2 separate regions of the Homo sapiens genome follow, and region 1 is linked to region 2. A link means that fine-mapping ties the variant in region 2 to the expression of a gene that starts in the linked region. Tissue or cell type: whole blood. Region 2 holds a variant in brackets; the other region holds the start of a gene. All regions are shown on one strand. Distances are between the middles of the regions.

What was found. PIP is the estimated chance that this variant, and not a neighbour inherited with it, causes the effect.
Region 1: it holds the start of ADD3, and the variant in region 2 is fine-mapped to the expression of ADD3 in whole blood (INTERVAL, PIP above 0.99).

The regions. Positions count from the first base shown.
Region 1 is chr10:110,006,342-110,009,023 of GRCh38, forward strand. ADD3 (adducin 3) reads left to right here and starts at 1,643. Exons shown (of 15, transcript NM_016824.5): 1 at 1,643-1,958. ADD3-AS1 (ADD3 antisense RNA 1) reads right to left here and starts at 2,040. Exons shown (of 5, transcript NR_038943.1): 1 at 1,840-2,040. RefSeq lists enhancers at 288-843, 844-1,397 and silencers at 1,226-1,655, 1,966-2,375.
Region 2 is chr10:110,099,960-110,102,641 of GRCh38, forward strand. It overlaps ADD3 (adducin 3), which reads left to right. Exons shown (of 15, transcript NM_016824.5): 2 at 666-889. The coding sequence starts at 695. Among named protein-coding and RNA genes, the nearest start is that of ADD3-AS1, 93 kb to the left of the region's middle. The variant T/C (reference allele first, on the strand shown) is at 1,337.

The sequences.
Region 1 (2,682 bases), 94 kb before region 2:
CTTTTTTTGCTATTCATAAAAAGGCTAACCTTGATGCATGCAAAGCTTTTCATTTTTTTGCTTTTTAAATGCAAGAAAATATCCAGCCACTCCCAATATCTCTCTCAAATACTGCAGATATTTTTAAATACCAAATAAAATGTCAGGCTGAGCATTTTCTAAACAATTTTCTTCCTCAAACTAGGCAGCCTTCCCCACGATTCGTTAAGAGTATTTAAAAATAATAAGGCATGGTTGGATTTTTTGAGCAAATGGGAGATGGTGGTAGACTAAAATTTCTACAGCCTTAGTCCAGTGGAGAGAGAAAACGATAAATGCATCACAGTTTGTGTCAAGACAAGATTCATTTTCCACACTTCATATGTGGGAAGAGGAAACTACATTTTAATTAGCACATTTTTAGGGAGGAGGGGGGGGATGAAGATGAGGCGGATGGCGTGAGGTATTTGAGGGGGACGAGTCTGCAGATGAGGAAAGGAAATGAAGTGGATTGTCGCCAGTGCCTTGGAAACGAAGGGGGATAAGGGTGGGGAACGAAGTTTGTTGTGTGTGTTAGGGTGGGGTTGGCCCAAGGGACCATGAATCATTAGAATGGCGCTCGGAGGGGTGTGCTTGCAAGTGTACTGGTGCAGGAGGGACGTGGAAGTCGTGGGTGGCAGAGAAAAGTGTGCACCGCTGGGAGGTCTATTTCAAGAATAGGTTGGGATGAGAAACATGTCTGGGCGAGGGGGGTGGGAGGCCCGGTGTCACCTGTGGATGGATCCACAGCCCTGCAATTGCGTGTTGCAAAGTTTGCCCGGCCCCGCATTCATTTTGAAGGTTCTTGGCGATGCCTCGACTTTTCGCCTCAAAGAAGTGAGCTCTCATAAGGTTCAGAGGCCGGGAGCCAAAGCGGGAGTGAAGACTCTCGAGGGGTCCAAATGAAGCAGAAGCGAGAGCCCCTGTCCTCCCCCTATGTGGAGGTGAAGCAGGGGTTGTGGGGACTAGGCGCCCGCGAAGGCAGCTGTGCTGAGAGCAAAGTCCAGGCCCCACGGGGGGCGTGCGGAGGTTGAACCTTTGCAGTGGCCTCCTACAGCCCCAGCAGCCAGCGTGGGCGGCCGAGGCTGACTCAAAGCGGCGGCTCAGCCTCGGGAGTAGGAGTAGGGGGCTCGCTCATTTAGGGCGGGAGACATTTCCGAGGCGCCCCTCCTCCCCTTCGCGGTCGGGTTTCTATCGGGGTCGTTTCCCCCTCTGGCCCTCCGGGGACGCCGCGGATTCGAGCTGCACAGTCAGAAGAGGACGTTGAAAAGGCGCCAGGCAGCCGCCCCGAACCAGGCCCTCCCGGCTGCCGGGCCTGCAGGCCCCCACCGCTGCGGCTTCACGGACTTAGAGCTTGAGGGCGCGGAGGGGGCTGCGGGGGCGGGACCAGGACTCCCGAGGGGCGCTCGGGGCGGGGCCAGAGAGAGCTCGGGGCTGCCAGAGGCGAGGTCTTGAGGAGGCGGGGCCGGGAGGCTTCGGAGCCCAAGAGGCGGGGCCAGAGGCGTAGGGGGCTGCGAGGGGCGGACCTTGGGGGCGTGACCGGGGGGGGCGCTTGGGGACCTAGGGGCGGGGCGTTAGGGGGCGGGACCAAGGGACGCTCGAGGGGCGCTCGGCTAGTCCCGCCAGAGCGCGAGCCGCCAGCCCGTAACGGTCGCCAGTGTGAGGGGCGGGAGGGAAAGAAGAGGGGTTTAAATTAGATTTTTTAAAACACAGAGCAAGCGCCAGAGGCGTCGGCATCCCAGGTGTCGCCGCTTCCTGCTGCACAGGGCTCGGCGTACAGGTCCCTCCCTCCTCAAGCCCCCTCCCCTTCTCCCGCCCTACCCTCTGGGGCTCTGCGGCGCTTAAGAGGCGGCCGCAGCGGCGGATCCGGCGGCTGCTGCAGCCCGGGCGGCTGCCGAGAAGGAGGGAGGGGAAACACAAAGCCGGCTACGCGCTGCGAGGTAATCTTGCGGGGAGAGGACGCGCCGTCGTCCCGCCTCTCTTCCGGGCCGGGACGCGGGCACCCGCGCGGGGGCTAGCACTGGGGACGCTACTGGGGGTCGCGCGGGGGTAGGGAGCGGCGGCTGGCGGGGCCAAGGGGACTTCTCATTGGCTGTCCCTGCGGCCTCAGGTGAACCCTTTTCCGGGGCGGGAGTGGGGACCACGGCCAGGCCAGAGGGGAGCGTACCTGCGGGGGAGGGTCCGGGGGTGGCGGTGCACGGCCTGCGGCGCCGCCGGGTGGGCCCGACGCTTCGCGCGTCTGCTGGTTTTCCCTAGGAAGGCGGGGAGTACCAAAATCAGTTACTGGCTGAAGCTTAGGTGACCCCGGGGACCTTAAGCCCTGAAGGTGCGCTCCAGGGGAGTGAGAGGTTCCTGCGCTTAGAAAAGGTGGAGGAAAGGGAGCGAATGTTGGTTTTAGTTGTTTTTCTCCTCATTTAAAAAAAATTTTTTTTGTTACAAGTTGAAAGTGTTCAGTCACCTTTCTCCTATAATCCGCTTCCCCACCCCCCAACACAGACACACACAAACACACCGCCCCTACAAACGTATACATGTTAGGTTGAGCTTCCTGCTAGGGGTGACAAGCGAAGTTGGCAGCAGGTCTGGTGTGCTGGTGTTTGGGGCACGTCCAGCCTCTTTGGAGGTAGGCTATTATAGCTTAGGCAAGACCACAGACAGGTAGCA
Region 2 (2,682 bases):
ACTTTGCATATGTGGTATTAAAAGTAGGAGTTGGGGGCCAGGCACAGAGGCTCATGCCTGTAATCTTATCACTTTGGGAGGCCAAGGCAGGAGGATCACTTCAGCCCAGCTGGGCACAGTGGCTCATGCCTATAATCCCAATGCTTTGGGAGGCCGAGGTGGGCAGACCATGAGATCAGTAGTTCCAGACCAGCATGGTCAATATGGTGAAACCCCATCTCTACTTAAAAAAATACAAAAATTAGCTGGGCATGGTGGCACGCGCCTGTAGTCCCAACTACTCGGGAGGCTGAGGCAGGAGAATCTCTTGAACCCAGGAGGTGGAGGTTGCATTGAGCCAAGATCACGTCACTGCACTCCAGCCTGGGTGACACAGTGAGACTCCATCTCAAAAAAAAAAAAAAAAAAAGGCAGTTGATGACATTAACGTAATTTAATTGAACCATGAGTTTCTGTTAGCTCTGAAAATATCAATTACAAATCGAGCATTATAATCTAAGATCTTTTTATATGAATAAAAAATTGTTCTAATATTTTTGAGAAGCTACTTTTTAAAGTGCACCTGTTAACTCTGAGGGCAAAATGTAAAAGTTCTGCTTGACCCATGTAAATTTTGAATTTAATGAATTTATCATGGATGTCCTTCTTTGTGTTTATTAATGCAGATAACAAGAGTAATCCACAGACTTAAAACATGAGCTCAGATGCCAGCCAAGGCGTGATTACCACTCCTCCTCCTCCCAGCATGCCTCACAAAGAGAGATATTTTGACCGCATCAATGAAAATGACCCAGAATACATTAGGGAGAGGAACATGTCTCCTGATCTACGACAAGACTTCAACATGATGGAGCAGAGGAAACGAGTTACTCAGATCCTGCAAAGTCCTGTGAGTTGAATTAGAAGGCTGTAATTTTTCTCCCTCTTTGGAAATGTTAGTATAATAAGGTAGAAGTTTTCTCAAACTACCCTCAGGTTAAAAGAGGGGTGGAGGAGGAGTGGTGACCAGTTGCTTCCAGTCTTTCAAAGGAGAAATGGACATCTAATTTGTGTATTTGATTTGCAGAGCCTTAATGACAACCTAGTATTGTGTTTGGTGGTTTAAATTTTGTGTGTTTTCTGGGTATAGCACTTTATTAAAGGAGGATACCCAATTCAGACTGAATATGTAAAGAAAAGAAAGGCATGACTCAAGTCATAGGAACCAATAAATAAGTTAGGTATATCCCATGCACGTATTTTCTTCTTCCTTTGGGTACCTTGACGCTCAGAGTGGCATGAGAAGACTTAAGGTTTTTGAGGAAGTCTGTGATTTGGCAGCCTAGTATTACATATG[T/C]CTACTGCAAGCACACGTGACTACACACTAAATTAACTAAATTAAAAGTAGATTATAGGCCAGGCTCAGTGGCTCACAGTGTAATCCCAGCACTTTGGGAAGCCGAGGCAGGAGGCTCACTTGAGCACAGGAGTTTGAAACCAGCCTAGGCAGCATAGTGAATCCTTGTCTCTACAAAAAAATTTAAAAATTAACTGGGTGTGGTGGTGTGCACATGTAGTCCCATCTACTCCTGGGAGGCTGAGGCAGGAGGATCACTTGAGCCCAGAAGGTCAAGACTGCTGTGAGCCGTGATCATGCCACTGCATTCCAGCCTGGGCAACAGAGTGAGACCTTACCTAAAAAAAAAAAAAAAAAAATTCAACTCAAGTGGAAAAATCCTGTCTGCACAGCAATAGTCAGACTTTGTGAATCATATTCAAATGATCTGTTTTCTTACAAAATCTTAGTGGAAATGTATTAATACATGATGGAAAATGAGAGAACAGCTTGATTTAAAATGCAAAATGAATTTGTAACTTTCTGCATGATGAAGATCATGCACCCCTAAGACAGAGTTCAGCACACAGACATATGATGCCCAGGTTAGGGTTATATTAGGTTTCCAACTTGGGTATCAAAATTAGCACCAAGGCATAGAGCTGCCTGAAGTAGCCCTGGTAAATCATTTTTGTTGTGTCCTTGTGAATTTAATCATAGAGGTAAGTCCAAAACCAAAGGGGAATTCCACTCTTAAGTAATTAATTCTCCCATACCAGTGGCCTCGGTGAAAGCATTGAAGTACAAGTTATAAAAGCAATGTAAGCATTGAGTAATTTTATTTTTTATAGTGCCCACTTTAAAGAAACTCTTTCCAAATGGAAAGATTCATCAGAAAAGTCATGAGAGAGTAAATGTTCAGTGCCTTACTTTATGCAAACTTGAGTGTCTAGGTTTATAAACACTTGAAGAGCACATTAATTATTTAGATCAAAAATAGATATGTTTCCTTCTCCAAAGAAACCCCATTTTTAAGAACTAACTTACTAGATCGGAAATGGTGGCTCACGCCTGTTGTAATCCCAGCACTTTAGGATGCCAAGGCAAGAGGATTGCTTGAGCCTAGGAGTTTGAGACGAGCCTGGGCAACATAGTGAGACCCAGTCTTTGCAAGAAATTAAAAAATTAGTCGAGCGTGGTGGTGTGAGTCCGTAGTCTCATACTTGGGAGGCTGAGTCGAAAGGATTACTTGAGCCCAGTAGATCAAGGCTACAGTGAGCCGTGATCACACTACGGCACTCCAGCCTGGGTGACAGGGCAAGACCCTGTCTCAAAAAAAATTTTAAAAGAACTTATCAACCAAATGA